2 separate regions of the Homo sapiens genome follow, and region 2 is linked to region 1. Evidence: fine-mapped expression QTL. Tissue or cell type: esophagus muscle. Region 1 holds a variant in brackets; the other region holds the start of a gene. All regions are shown on one strand. Distances are between the middles of the regions.

The links. PIP is the estimated chance that this variant, and not a neighbour inherited with it, causes the effect.
Region 2: it holds the start of ARFIP1, and the variant in region 1 is fine-mapped to the expression of ARFIP1 in esophagus muscle (GTEx, PIP above 0.99).

The regions. Positions count from the first base shown.
Region 1 is chr4:152,738,011-152,746,193 of GRCh38, reverse strand. No RefSeq gene overlaps it. Among named protein-coding and RNA genes, the nearest start is that of TIGD4, 38 kb to the left of the region's middle. RefSeq lists an enhancer at 4,976-5,476. The variant C/T (reference allele first, on the strand shown) is at 3,157.
Region 2 is chr4:152,776,341-152,784,523 of GRCh38, reverse strand. It overlaps ARFIP1 (ARF interacting protein 1), which reads right to left and starts at 4,570. Exons shown (of 9, transcript NM_001025595.3): 1 at 4,298-4,570. It overlaps TIGD4 (tigger transposable element derived 4), which reads left to right and starts at 4,794. Exons shown (of 2, transcript NM_145720.4): 1 at 4,794-5,042. RefSeq lists enhancers at 4,293-4,342, 4,533-4,692, 5,143-5,352.

The DNA.
Region 1 (8,183 bases):
CCCTTCTCTGCTTTCCTGGGGCAGGGGCAAGTAATCCTCAACCCCTTCTCCTTCACCCTCAGTGGCAAGTCCCGCTTTCCTGGGGCAGGAGCAAGTACCCCTCAACCCCTTCTCCTTCACCCTCAGTGGCAAGTCCCGCTTTCCTGGGGCAGGGGCAAGTACCCCTCAACCCCTTCTCCTTCACCCTTAGCAGCAAGTCCCGCTTTTCCTAGGGGGCAAGAACCCCCCAATCGCTTATTTCCACGCCCCAATCTCTTATCTCTGTGCCCCAATCCCTTATTTCCGTGCCCCAACCCTTTCTCTGCTTTTCTGGAGGGGAAGAAACCCCCACCCCTTCTCCGTGTCTCTACTCTTTTCTCTGGGCTTGCCTCCTTCACTATGGGCAAGCTTCCACCTTCCATTCCTCTTTCTTCTCCCTTAGCCTGTATTCTTAAGAACTTAAAACCTCTTCAATTCTCACCTGACCTAAAATCTAAGCGTTTTTCTTCTGCAATGCCGCTTGACCCCAATACAAACTCAACAGTAGTTCCAAATAGCCAGAAAACGGCACTTTCAATTTTTCCATCCTACAAGATCTAAATAATTCTTGTCGTAAAATGGGCAGATGGTCTGAGGTGCCTGACGTCCAGGCATTCTTTTACACATCAGTCCCTTCCTAGTCTCTGTGCCCAGTGCAACTCATCCCAAATCTTCCTTCTTTCCCTCCCGCCTGTCCCCTCAGTACCAACCCCAAGCGTCGCTGAGTCTTTCTAATCTTCCTTTTCTACAGACCCATCTGACCTCTCCCCTCCTCGCCAGGCCGAGCTAGGTCCCAATTCTTCCTCAGCCTCCACTCCTCCACCCTATAATCTTTTTATCGCCTCCCCTCCTCACACCTGCTCCGGCTTACAGTTTCCTTCCGTGACTTAGCCCTCCCCCACCTGCCCAGCAATTTATTCTTAAAAAGGTGGCTGGAGCTAAAGGCATAGTCAAGGTTAATGCTCCTTTTTCTTTATCCCAAATCAGATAGCGTTTAGGCTCTTTTTCATCAAATATAAAAACCCAGCCCAGTTCATGGCTCGTTTGGCAGCAACCCTGAGACACTTTACAGCCCTAGACCCTAAAAGGTCAAAAGGCCGTCTTATTCTCAAAATACATTTTATTACCCAATCTGCTCCCGACATTAAAACTCCAAAAATTAAATTCTGGCCCTCAAACCCCACAACAGGAATTAATCAACCTCGCCTTCAAGGTGTACAATAATAGAAAGCAGCCAGACGGCAACGCATTTCTGAGTTACAATTACTTGCCTCTGCTGTGAGACAAAACCCAGCCACACCTCCTGCATACAAGAACTTCAAAATGCCTAAGCTGCAGCAGTCAAGCATTCCTACAAGACTTCCTCCATCAGGATCCTGCTTCAAGTGCCAGAAATCTGGCCACTGGGCCAAGGAATGCCTGCAGCCCAGGATCCCTCCCAAGCCATGTCCCATCTGTGCAGGGACCCACTGGAAATCAGACTGCCCAGCTTGCCCAGCAGCCACTCCTAGAGCCCCTAAAGCTCTAGCCCAAGGCTCTCTGACTGACTCCTTCCCAGATCTGCTTGGCTTAGCGACTGAAGATTGACGCTGCCCGATCGCCTCGGAAGCCCCCTGGACCATCACGGACACCGAGCTTCAGGTAACTCTCACAGTGGAGGGTAAGTCCATCCCCTGTTTGATCGATACGAGGGCTACCCACTCCACATTGCCTTCTTTTCAAGGGCCTGTTTCCCTTGCCCCCATAACTTTTGTGGGTATTGATGGCCAAGCTTCAAAACCCCTGAAAACTCCTCAACTCTGGTGCCAACTTAGACAATACTCTTTTAAGCACTCCTTTTTAGTTATCCCCACCTGCCCAGTTCCCTTATTAGGCTGAGACACTTTAACTAAATTATCTGCTTCCCTGACTATCCCGGACTACAGCTATATTTCATTGCTGCCCTTCTTCCCAATCCAAAGCCTCCTTTGCGTCCTCCTCTTGTATCCCCCCACCTTAACCCACAAGTATAAGATACCTCTACTCCCTCCTTGGCGACCGATCATGCATCCCTTACCATCTCATTAAAACCTAATCACCCTTACCCCACTCAATGCCAATATCCCATCCCGCAGTACGCTTTAAAAAGATTAAAGTCTGTTATCACTTGCCTGCTACAGCATGGCCTTTTAAAGCCTATAAACTCTCCTTACAATTCCCCCATTTCACCTGTCCTAAAACCAGACAAGCCTTACAAGTTAGTTCAGGATCTGCACCTTATCAACCAAATTGTTTTGCCTATCCACCCCGTGGTGCCAAACCCATATACTCTCCTATCCTCAATACCTGCCTCTATAACCCATTATTCTGTTCTAGATCTCAAACATGCTTTCTTTACTATTCCTTTGCACCCTTAATCCCAGCCTCTCTTCACCTTCACTTGGACTGACCCTGACACCCATCAAGCTCAGCAAATTACCTAGGCTGTACTGCCACAAAGCTTCACAGACAGCCCCCATTACTTCAATCAAGCCCAAATTTCTTCCTCATCTGTTACCTATCTCGGCATAATCTCATAAAAACACACGTGCTCTCCCTGCCAATCGTGTCCAACTGATCTCTCAAACCCCAGCACCTTCTACAAAACAACAACTCCTTTCCTTCCTAGGCATGGTTAGCGTGGTCAGAATTCTTACACGAGAGCCAGGACCACACCCTGTAGCCTTTCTGTCCAAACAACTTGACCTTACTGTTTTAGCCTAGCCCTCATGTCTGCGTGCAGCGGCTGCCACTGCCTTAATACTTTTAGAGGCCCTAAAAATCACAAACTATGCTCAACTCACTCTCTACATTTCTCGTAACTTCCAAAATCTATTTTCTTCCTCATACCTGACGCATATACTTTCTGCTCCCCGGCTCCTTCAGCTGTACTCACTCTTTCAGTCCCACAATTACCATTGTTCCTGGCCCGGACTTCAATCTGGCCTCCCACATTATTCCTCATACCACACCTGACCCCCATGACTGTATCTCTCTGATCCACCTGACATTCACCCCATTTCCCCAAATTTCCTTCTTTCCTGTTCCTCACCCTGATCACGCTTGATTTATTGATGGCAGTTCCACCAGGCCTAATCGCCACACACCAGCAAAGGCAGG[C/T]TATGCTATAGTACAAGCCACTAGCCTGCCTCTCAGAACCTCTCATTTCCTTTCCATCGTGGAAATCTATCCTCAAGGAAATAACTTCTCAGTGTTCCATCTGCTATTCTACTACTCCTCAGGGATTATTCAGGCCCCCTCCCTTCCCTACACATCAAGCTTGAGGATTTGCCCCCACCCAGGACTGGCAAATTAGCTTTACTCAACATGCCCGAGTCAGGAAACTAAAATACCTCTTAGTCCAAATAGACACTTTCACTGAATAAGTAAAGGCCTTTCCTACAGGGTCTGAGAAGGCCACCGCAGTCATTTCTTTCCTTCTGTCAGACATAATTCCTCAGTTTAGCCTTCCCACCTCTATACAGTCTGATAACAGACCAGCCTTTATTAGTCAAATCAGCCAAGCAGTTTTTCAGGCTCTTAGTAGGTTTCAGCGAAACCTTTATATCCTTTACGGTCCTCCATCTTCAAGAAAAATAGAACGGACTAAAGGTCTTTTAAAAACACAGCTCACCAAGCTCAGCCACCAACTTAAAAAGGACTGGACAATACTTTTACCACTTTCGCTTCTACAAGGTACAGCCCATTTAAGCTCCTGTATACATGCTCCTTTTTATTAGGCCCCAGTCTCATTTGACACCAGACCAACTTAGACTGTGCCCCCAAAAAACTTGTCATCCCTACTATCTTTTATCTAGTCATACTCCTATTCACCGTTCTCAACTACTCATATACGCCCTGCTCTTGTTTACACTGCCGGTTTACGCTGTTTCTCCAAGCCATCACAGCTGATATCTCCTGGTGCTATCCCCAAACTGCCACTCTAAACTCTTGAAGTAAATAAATAATCTTTGCTGGCAGGACTATGCTGAATCTCCTTAGGCACTCTCTAATCAGATGTCCTAGGTCCTCCCAATTCTTAGACCTTTTATACCTGTTTTTCTCCTTCTCTTATTCCATTTAGTTCCTCAATTCATCCAAAACCGTATCCAGGCCATCACCAATCATTCTATATGACAAATGTTTCTTCTAACATCCCCACAATATCACCCCTCACCACAAGACCTCCCTTCAGCTTAATCTCTCCCACTCTAGGTTCCCACGCCGCCTCTAATCCCGCTTGAAGCAGCCCTGAGAAACATCGCCCATTCTCTCTCCATACCACCCCCCCAAAATTTTTGCCACTCCAACACTTCAACACTATTTTGTTTTATTTGTCTTATTAATATAAGAAGGCAGGAATGTCAGGCCTCTGAGCCCAGGCCAGGCCATCGCATCCCCTGTGACTTGCACGTATACATCCAGATGGCCTGAAGTAACTGAAGATCCACAAAAGAAGTAAAAACAGCCTTAACTGATGACATTCCACCATTGTGATTTGTTCCTGCCCCACCCTAACTGATCAATGTACTTTGTAATCTCCCCCACCCTTAAGAAGGTTCTTTGTAATTCTCCCCACTCTTGAGAATGTACTTTGTGAGATCCACCCCTGCCCACCAGAGAACAACCCCCTTTGACTGTAATTTTCCATTACCTTCCCAAATCCTATAAAATGGCCCCACCCCTATCTCCCTTCGCTGACTCTCTTTTCGGACTCAGCCCACCTGCACCCAGGTGAAATAAACAGCCATGTTGCTCACACAAAGCCTGTTTGGTGGTCTCTTCACACGGACGCGCATGAAAGTTATTCAATTGCTTTTTTTTTTTTTTTTTTTTTTTTTTTAGACAGGGTCTCACTGTTTGACTCAGGCTAGAGTGCGGTGACACAATCACGGCTCACTGAGGCCTCGACCTCCCAGGCTCAAGCCATCCCCCTGCCTCAGCCTCCCAAGTGCCTGGGACCACAGATGCGTGCCACCAAGCCAGGCTAATTTTTGTATTTTGTGTAGAGACAGGATTTTGCCATGTTGCCCAAGCTGGTCTCAAACTGTGGACTCAAGTGATCGGCCCACCTCAGCCTTCCAAAGTGCCGGGATTACAGGCGTTAGCCACTGCACCCAGCCTCGATTGCTTTAAATGAGAGGGTAGAGAGTTTCCATATGAAGGAAGACCAAGGTCTTTTGACACTTAAGGAGATTGTAATTATCCGGTGACGCTGCTCTCACTACCATTTTTGTTAAATGGTAGTCAATCAGAGTAAAGGCCCATAAAAGAGAAAAAACAATGTTCTGGGCAGAGCAACTATGTCCAGCCAGGTTCAGCTTTCCCTCTGCAGTCATTTTTTTACCCCAGACACAGTCTTTCTATTTGCCTGATCTCTAAATGCCTGGTGGAAAGACAGATGGATAGGAGAGGTGAGTGCTACAGTGGGAATATCTTGCCTATTGACAGCTGTCTGCAGGAAAAATAGAAGGAGGTGTAACTTAATTTGAAAAGACTGTGCTCTTGAAATTTTGGATTTAAATATAAAATGGAATCATATTATACATGCACTTTAGGAATTTATTGTGCAAAGGAAATCTAGGGTATACCTTCTCTTAAGTGCAAATCCTGTTACTTTAAATCAAAACAATACAATTATATTTTAACCAATATGTCCTATAAGCTTGACTTTTAAATGGCAGGTTTTCTTATGGAGAAATACCTTTATACTCTGAAATTTATTTCTGTAATAATTCTGTACTCCAAAGCAATAAAAAAGAAATCACTGAAATATAAAATATATTCAGTGAAAATGTTTAAAAAGCATGGAACCAACAAAAGTTGCCCTTTGTATTTTGTAAGGTAAGAATCTATATTTACTATTTCATAAAAGAAATCATACTTTACATGTAAAAAGTAAAAAGGACATAGCATAAAGGATAGTTGGTAATCTGACAACAGAGAGACACAGATGAAATATATTTTTATAAATATATACATAATTTTTGAGTTTAGAAGAGTTACTATATGAAATCCTATTGCATTGTACATAATTGTTAGTTTGATACACATTTATCAGCTTGTGGTTATATATTCAATAGGACACCACAAAGTAGAGCATCAATGTTCAATTTGTTCTCATATCTTTATCATTCATTATGAAACTCAGTTTCTCAAAGGTTTGTTAGCAAAGATGGAAGTAACACTCTTAATGGCATTTCCCTTCATTTGGAATATTCTATGTAAATGAAAGCAAGTTTCCTGATCGCTCTGATGCTGTCCTTATTCCTTACCGGGCCATGAAGAACTTGGCGGGGGCAGATGGTAGAGCCCAGGTGCCTAGAGCAAGCTCTTACTCAGTAGCTCCTCTTAGCTAAGGCTGAGCAACTGAGGCCCTGGGACTTCAATCGAGAGCCCACAGGGATTGTGGAAAAGATGCCTTGGCCTATGAAAGCTTTCCCTCGGACCAGTGCTGTTTCATTGTTTAGCATTTGGGAACCATTTTCCTACAGCATGTAGATAAAGGTCAAGTTTGCTTCTGATTGTCACCAATCATTAGATAGTTGGCTGTAGTAAAGAATAACAAGGTAATCACAAAGAGTAAATCTATTTCCTATGTTATAAATGCATAATCTCTCTTTTTTGTCTATTTTCTGCATGTGTCACACATTATAGTGGGTTGAATAATGTCCCCCACCCAAATTTATGGCCACCCAAAAGCTCAGAATGTGACCTTATGTGGAAATAGGGATGTAATTTTCTTAGCATATGTAATTAATTGTAATTGGTTGAGGAGCTCAGATGAAATCATCATAGATTAAGAGTGGGCCCTAAATCTAATGACTAGTGTCCTTACAATATAGAGGGCACAAAATCACACAGAGAAGACCATGTGAGGGCCAAGGCAGATACTGGAGTTAGGCTGCCCCAAACCAAGGAATGCCAGGAGCCACCAGAAGCTGGAAGAGACAAGAAAGGGTTCTGCCCCAGAACCTTCTTGGGGAGCATGGCCTTGCCAACACCTTGATTTTGGACTTTGGCCTCCAGAACTCTATGAGAATAAGCTTTTGTTGTTTTAAGTCACGAAGTTATGATTAGGAAATTGAGAAATATCTTTCGCTTTTTATGACTCAATTCTTTTTTCTGCTATATCCTTTGCAAGAATGAGGTCATAAAACTATACAAGAGATTCTTTGTGGAATCTCTCTGTTGAATAAGTAACACTTCTCACTTCACAAACTCCTTTGTGTTGGTCGTATTTCATGATCTTGACTCTCAACTGTTTTTGTTTCTGTTTGTCCCCTTCCTGTGCCCCTAGAAGCACTAGCAGGAGTGTTTTGCAGATGGAGGGGTGCCTTGTCTGCTGTCGTCTTTCCATGTAACACTGAGTAGTCTCAGAACTAATTTAGTGGATTTAGATTTGGAAGAATCCATCATGCTCAGGTCTTTTCCAAGACGGTCAGGTTTCTTGCATTCATCTTCTTACATCAGTGCTCAGGCATTTGCCATTGATATTTATAACTGCTGGCCCATTTCAGAGACTCTCTTTTTTACCAAGACAATGTCCTCTTATTTGGCAGCTCCTCCCTGGCCCCTGCATATCTGCTCTGGTGCCTTAGTAATAATCCTCTACTAAATTCAAGGCTGAAAGCAGACTCCCACGGCCTTTTTCTAAACAGCTCACATCATAATCTAATCAGTCCAGAAAGTTCAGAAACATTTATTGTGCACCAGGTAAGGGCCTGACACTGTATCAGGGGTTCTTGTATGTGTATCATCATGTATACACCAAACAGGAAAGAGAGAAACTCCTTAGTCTTCATTTCCAGCCCTCTGGCTCTCCCCAAATACTGGTCTTCTTTCTCCTAAGTCCCCCCAGGGTACCACTGCACCATAGGCAGGGTTGTTACTTTGCTCTAACACCTAGAGTTTCTCCTGCTAATGTGTGAATGAAGGGAAAGATACTTTCTCTGCTGTTCCTGAACCCTATTTTTGCCTTTTGGGTAATAATGCAGAGGGGAAGGGTAAAACCGACTGTGCAGCAGATACCTCTTAAAGGCTCCTGTCCTGGGCTACCCTCTGTTCCCAAGCACCTGACCTACTGCAGAGCATCTCCTCCTCTCTGTCCCCCATGCCAATTTCCAAAGGGAGCCTGCCAAAGGGCT
Region 2 (8,183 bases), 38 kb before region 1:
GTGTATTTCATAAAGAGACTTTATATTCCTTTTTCAGGAACAACTAAAGGTTTGAGCAACACCTGCCTATGCCCATCCTAAGACAAAGGCTTAGAAGGAATGGAGGAGAATGGAATGAGAGATGGGAGAAAGAGGAGAATAGGAATAAAGGAAAAAGAAAAAGAAAATAAATACTTTTGTCTCATAAAGAATATCTGTTAATCTGCAAGAGCCATTCGGCAGCTTCCATGACTGCCAAAAGCTACTAAAGATCAAGGAAAACAAAATTATTTTCAGGCCAATAGTCTTTTTCATACATCCAGAAGTAGTGCTACATATCTGACTTTTAGATTGTCATGATCCTAAGTCATCAACTTCCATATTAAGTGGAACAACTCACTTTCCATTCTGTACAAATATTTTAGTTTTTCATCCATAACCATATTAAAGTTTCCTGTTTAATTTACTCCTTCTTCCATTCTGAATTTATTCTTTCCATCCCAAATGTATTATTCTAAAATTTATTTATACTTCCAGACTCTTACAATGCCCAGTTTATTACTTATAATCTTCATTTTCACATTTTCCCCTCCTCATATACACACACACCATCTGCTTATTATTTGAATCTTCATTTCAAGAATTTATAATACTTACAATTCTTTATTTCAAGTAGGTGTGTGTGTTCTAACACACACACACACACACACCAGAGACTTATATCCATCCCCATAGGAAACCCCTACCAACTGCCTCCACCAAATTCACTTTTTTGTCAAACTTCTCAGTATGATATTCAACCAGATGTTCATCCACTGAAGATTAAGAAAGGAAACAACCTTTTCTCAACACCTGATAGAAAGTCAGGTGATATATCTCCAACTCATTTCAAAAAGGACATAATGGACGCATGGTAGAAGTTGTCTACAGTAGTAGTCTAGAGTCAGACAACGTAGGTGGAGCCATGCACTGGCTCCACCAGCGCAATTCTGAGCAGACTACTTTAGCTTCAGTTAATCATTCAGCTTTATTTTCTTCACCTACAGAAATGAGGACTTTAGCCACTTTATAAGGTTATCATTTGAGATAATAATGTAAAGCACTTAGCTTAATGCACATGGTAAGCAAATAAATGTAACTGTTACAGTGTTAGATATAAAATATCTTCCGAATTTGTCATTACCTTAAAAGGAAACTAATTTAGCATAAGCTAGTCTGTTGTTGATGTTGTTTTTGAGATGGAGTCTCACTCTGTTGGCCAGGCTGGAGTGAAGTGGTGGGATCTTGGCTTACTGCAGCCTCCGCCTCCTGGGTTCAAGCGATTCTCCTGCCTCAGCCCCTCCCAAGTAGCTGGGACTACAGGCATGCAACACACACCCGGCTAATTTTTTTATTTTTAGGAGAGATGGGGTTTCACCATGTTGGCCAGGTTTTGAACTCCTGACATCAAGTGATCCACCCGCCACAGCCTCCCAAAGTGTTGGGATTACAGGTGTGAGGCACCGTGCCCAGCCTAGCATACGCTATTCTCTATAAACTTATGTTGACTGCTCCCCCAAGTGAGGTTGCTAGACAGAGGAAAACTTATTCTGTGAGCAGAAGAAACTGGATACTCATGATAGACTATGATGAGCTGTATAGGTCTCTTCAAGTTAACATTCTAAAAAAAAAAGTATCAGACCTTTAGAACTGCAACCCTCAATCAACAAATAATTCACAACCAAATCAGTAAGTTCAAATATGTACTCTAAAACTTACATTAAGCTTGGAAGGATACTAACGTATTCACAAGAGAGAAACAATCATTAAAATATCTCATACAGAATGGAGGGAAAGGGGATGTCAAGATAAGCAACAACATTCCAAAGGACCACACCACTGAAACATCTTGTTTGTTTTTCATAGCAAAGCCAAATCAAATCCTAAGGTACATGCCTCAAGCAAAAAAAATTAAGAAAATGAAAGCAAAATACAACTAGAATTTAAATTTTTTACTCTGAACTGTGCCTAGTTGGTTGGTGATATTTAATACATATTAAAGATAGGCACATCAGTTTGTAAATCCACTGGATCTCCAGAGCATGGACCACAAACAGCTATCCCTAAGAAGAAACCTCAAAACCACAAATCAGGAAATAAAGTGGGCAGCCTCATTTCCTTCTGTAAGTCTAGGAAGGAATTTAGAAACACTAATGTTTTAAAGGAGAGATTTCAATATCAAACTAGAAGAATCCCTGCATTCTCCTTTCCTTGGTCCCAAAGCAAACAATTTACAGTTTGGGAAAACACACACACACACACACACACACACACACACACACCCCTACCTGTTTTCACTAACTTCAACAAGACACTGCCTAAGTGGTGGTTTTAATCTATCAAGAAGCTATATATCTCCTTTGCACAGTTTGGGAAAGCACACACACATACACACCTGTTTTCACTAACTTCAACAAGATACTGCCTAAGTGGAAAACACACACACACATACACACACAAAACCTGTTTTCACTAACTTCAACAAGACACTGCCTAAGTGGTGGTTTTAATCTATCAAGAGGCTGTATATCTCCTTTGAGAATTTGATAAAAACAATGGACACTTTCCCCAGGGGGGAAAAAAATTCACTCAAACAAAACTGCATATAATTTCAGGGGTGGGAATGAGGAAGACCCCTGAAAGTTGTTGACCCTTAGGCCATGAACCCCAAGTCATCATCCAGGATTAAGGCAAATCATAATCCAAGGAAAACCAGTTTATCAATTTGGAAAGAAACTAAAGTAACTGAGGCAGGGATTTAATCCACAAAATACATTAGAAATCTTTTCTCTTTTCTCAGATAAAAGTGTGTTAGACTTGGTAGTTGGGAGAAGACGTGGGTCATGCTAAGCAAGGAAAACAAAACAAAAAACACCACAGGACAAACGAAAGAAAAGCAGAATTAAGGCAGCAGTAAAATATAGTAATCTGTAGCCGCTCTGAGAGAACAGCAATGAAATGGCCAATTCGGCCGGGCGCGGTGGCTCACGCCTGTAATCCCAACACTTTGGGAGGCCGAGGAGGGAGGATCATTTGAGGTCAGGAGTTTGAGACCAGCCTGGCCAACACGGTGAAACCCCGTCTCTACTAAAAATACAAAAATTAGCTAGGCGGTAGTGGCGCCTACCTGTAAACCCAGCTACTCAGAAGGCTGAGACAGGAGAAAAGCTTGAGCCTGGGAGGTGGACGTTGCGGTGAGCCGAGATCGTGCCAATGCACTCCAGCCTGGGCGACAGAGTGAGACTCTGTCTCAAAAAAAAAAAAAAAAAAAGAAAAAAGAAAAGGCCAATTCCTGAAGCCTTAACAGACGGCTGACTTAAGGTAACCATTTCTGGTGCACATTTCTATGCCAATTAAGTTAATTAAATGGCAAACATGAACACACCCTTACAGGTGAAAGTATGAAAGCAAAAGTTTATGCGAAGTTCTGGATCTCTTCCGGCTTTTCCTTATCAAATAATAATGTAGTTAGATGAATTTTATACTTTAGGAGAAAACAGGGTAGGGGCGGGGGACAGAAATCCTAAGAGTGGCCAAAGGATCTGCAGGAAGTATAAAGTGTAAACTTTTTGAAATCAAAGGGCTCAAGAGGAAGGTAAGAACAAAACAAAGGAAGTAATAACAAAATAAAGTAAAAGGGAAAAACGTCTAGCATCTAAAAACTGTTTTTAAAAAATTATTTCCTTTTCCTAGACACGTAAACAGTAGTAACTTGGCAAACAGGAACGGAGCAGAAGACAATCGAACAACTCCCTTTCCAAAACTCCAGCATTCCTTAGTCAGGCTTGGGACATTTCACAGGCAAGACTCCTCTCTGCACCACTGCCAGATGAATCTCTCAGAGGGACTGTCACTATCTCCCTTCCTCCCACTGCGGGAGAGAGGAAGCTGGGGATGCAGGGAGAAGAGGGGAGAAATGAGGGTTGGACAGCAAGCCTGAAGGTGGCCCACTCCGACACTTTGTCAAGAAAGGTCCGGATTCTGGATCCTGCAACTCCTTTTCCCACCCAATGTATGCAAAGCCAAGAGAGTGCCTCCCTGCAAGGGCCGGTCCTACACCTTCACTCGACTGTTTCGGGGGCACACTCAGAGGGACAGAAGGAATGAAGGACAGAAGAAACCAAAGGCATAACACTTGGGCAGATACGGCACAGACTAAGGAGAGGCGTGCCCTGTGAAAGTTCGGAACGGTGAACCCGTAGGCAACGTGCCCGCCCCACCAGCCACCTCAAACCATCTTTCCCCCGCCTTTTCCCAGGCGAGCCAGCTCCGCCCTCACCTTTCTTAGGGTAACTCGGTAGCTTCTAAGTCGAGGCTTATCCTTTCCGCCGCTCTCTGGAATCGCCTCAACCCTGGCAAAAACTGAGCGGAAACGCGACCCGGACCTTTTCCTTCTTCCCCTTCCCCCACGCACCTCGGCTGCTCGGGGGCGGGGAGCAACTGCAGCTGTCACAAATTCACACTGACCAACCGCCGAGGACAGTCGGACCGGCGACCTCTCAACCCAGCCTCCAGAACCAGAACCAAGAGCAGCGAAGCCGGAAGTGAGGAGACCGGAAGTAGCGTTGTCCCTGGCCCTGGACGGCCTCTCTCTCCCTCAATCCGGCCTTGCCCGGCCACGTCTCGGTGGTGTCAGCGCACCTCCCACGAGGATCCCTCCGCCCTTCTCCGGGAGGCGGGCTACGCCCCTCCCTCTGCTGCCCTAGCAACCACATCCGGGACTCCGGCGGTGTCGTTGCCCGGGTAATTTTCTGGCAGCGACCTAATGCGCGCGGGGCCAGAGGCACCGGCTAGAGCTGGGAGCTTGCGGAAGGGCGCCCCTGCCTGGTCTTGAGAGGTCGAAGGTCTCCAGGAGGCCTCCGCCTCCCTCTTTTTCATTCACACACCCTAGCCTCACACGTTAGGAGGACCCCCCCAACAGACCGTGAGCTGGTGCCGGGAGGGTGGAGGTAGATGTACCTCACCTCCACGCTACCACAGAAGAGCGAAAGCTGCTTTCTCAGCCACCGGAGAGCACGAAGAAGGTTATTCCAGTCCCGGGGGGAAGGTGGGGGTGGTAGGGAGAATGCGAAGATAAGGCAGCAGACGGAATGCGGGCGCTGCCTCGCGCTGCCCCCGTGCCTGGGGAGCCCTCTCCCTTCAGAAAGGCTAGACCCCCGGGCCCGGCATCCCTGAGCTCTTACTTGCTCTGGATTTGTGATCGCTTTTTGCTTTTTGCTCGCTCTCTCACAGTAGATTCCTTGATACTTTTCTTTCCGGCTCCTCTTTCTTTTTCCGGATGACCGAGCTCTGCTTTCTTTGCTTGCCCCATTACTTCTTAAATAGATCATTGTTCTGTCACGGAAACTGCTGAACAATTCGCTCTCTCAGAGCCCTTCGTAGTTTCCTAAACGGGGCCCCAACCTGCACTACTCTCCCCATCCCCAGAGCTCAGTGGTGCGAAAGCGTGGCTCCCCCGTGGCGCTAGATAGACCTGAAGTTCATTTACACACTGTACCATACAGTTGGTCCATCACAGAATATCCCTTCGAACTGCTGGACTGCTTTTCCTTTGACAGCTTTGAATGCTCATTTTTACTCCCATTTCACTTGTAGAAATGCGAAGGGTAACTGTGCACACGGCGAGATTTACCCTTCTTTAGACCGTACTTCTCAGCTGCCTTTACTTGTCACAGTAGCTGACAAGATATTTTTAATGACTAATGCCCAAAGGCAGAGCTCTACCTCTACAGATTTCCAGGGAGTTTCAGTGTAGTGAAATATCCCTGGCAGGTATCTTCCCCAGATCTGTGAATAGTAAACACCTATGGCACCATAAATGTTTCCAATGTATAACAATATTGATTGAGCTCTCTAGGATACCACCTCTTAAAAAAATAGTACTGAAATTCCAAAACATAAATCTCTTATCTTAAGTGGTTCTGTCTTAAACAAAAGAAAGGAGCAAATATATATGCCAACCCACTCAAACTGTAACTTCAATTGTTATAGCTTACTGTGGATTTTTCTGTACAAAGCCATCTTGTTGGTTTGGAGACCATTAGTCTTCTCAATTATAAGAAAATAATCCCAATCTAAATTAATTACTGCTGTAATTGTGTAGGAACTGAGCAACTACAGAACTTGCAGCTAAGTACAAGTGTTGTTCCTAGGGTTTCAGAAGGGTGACTTGGAGGAAGTGTACGGTAGGACTCAGCGGTGCTTGAATGATGTGGACAATGAATACTAAATTGTTTTTGCTGGCTGTTATCTTAAAGATTCCTGCTAGCTGTCTCTTGAGTTTGGAGATGCTTAGCTTGACTAAAGTTAGTCTAACTATTAGACTGTCAGACTCTGAAGTGTTTCTTATTTTGGAAAGGTGAAGACTTGCTTTAGTTTGTTCATAGTTTCCTTGGCAGCTGCTGATGGTTTTGATGGAGATTCAGATGGATTTGGAACTAATGCTAACTTCTGCTTGGTGAAGATGCTAACCAAGTTAGATACTCTTCAGTGAATTCTGGTACTGTGTACGATTAATCCTCATCCACAGTATTACGCTGTGCAAGGCTATATATACACAGGATTAATCTTTCCATGATTTCCACTGCCCTGAAGGAAATTAGAATGTAGTCTGGCTCCAAGAAAACACTAGAAACTACTTCAGCTGGTGATGGAAAATAGTGGAATTCTATACATCCTTTGAGACAATGGAAGCAGCAAACCAGCGTTCTTTGGATTGGGGAATATTTTTGGTACTAACTGAAAAACATCATTTTAAGCCTGGCCCTGCTTAGAGGAGACTTGTTTTCTCTTCCCTCTCTCCCTCTCTTCCTTTTTTCCCTCCTTCCTCTTTTTCTTTCCTCCTTTCCTTCTTGTCTCCCTCCCTTCTCCTTCCTTCCTTCTTCCTCTTTTTCTTTCCTCCTTCCCTCCCTCCCTCCCTTCCTTCCTTTTTTCCTTTCTCCCCTCCTTCCTTCCTTTTTTTCTTCCTTCCTTCCTCCCTCCCTCCCTTCTTTTCTTCCTTTCTTCCTTTGCCCTAAAACTTGGGGGACCCTGCCTGCTCATTTTGTTTAGAATAGAAGATTACTACTTTTCTCTGAATTGTCATTTATTTTTAGAGAGGTAAGAAAAAAGGGAATAGCTGCCTTCCATATATACTTATGACATGGAGATTATCTACTCATTTAACTTTGCACTGCTATTGGCTGTTTATTTGGCTTTTGAAAAATCAGGTGCTATTTATTCATTGGGCTTGTGGGGAACTCTAGTAGCCCTGAATGGCATTTGTGGCATACTCAATGAAGTCTAATTCTTTATCCTGGCATTAAAGGCTTACCAAGATCTGGCCTCAATCTTGCAAATGAGCACTCTCTTATATACCTGAAGGAAAAGTGCTAATTTAGCCAACTAATAGAGATAGGTATAAATACCAATATAGACATAGATATGAAACTTTAGTTGCAAAGAAATGTTTAATATGCTTCAAAGTGCATATTTCCCTCTTCCATGCTTTATTGTCTATTCTTATCAGCAGAAATGTTTTCCTATTTTTCCTTACCTGTGATGTACCTATCCATCCTTTACAGTTGAGTTCAGATGCTACTTCTGTCATGAACCCATTATTTATCCTCCCTGTGAGAATTCATTTTTCCCTGTTTTTGGATCTTACAGCCTTTGATTTGAGCCCCCATTTCAGTCTGCTTTATACTACTGTCTTGCATGTTTTCCCATGATAAATAAGATGGTTTTTGGGAAACTGAACTTTGGACTTACTTGATTCTCTTATAACACCAGGAAATTGGCCAATTCTAGTTGAGTTATGGAAATATGTTGTCTGCTGCATACCAGGCAAGTTCAAGAATACCAGCAACTCCTGCTACTTAGGGTAATGGTACAAGTAGGATTAAGTGGATATAGTTGCTATCTATCTGTAGAAGACAATGAGTGAGTGCTGTCTTAAGTTTGGAAAGTAGTTGATTCTCTGCAGAGGGGTATAAACTACTGATGAAAGGAGAGTGACTCATTACTCCTAGAGATTCTGAATGGGAAGAATGCCAGCTTTATGTTTTCTGATACTGATTTTTTTTTTAATAACTTGGTGCAAAAGTAGAACATTATTCTAAGATGACTGTTGTGGAAGAAAAAAAAGGTAGAACATTAGAGTTGTAAAAATGTTTTTAACTATAAAG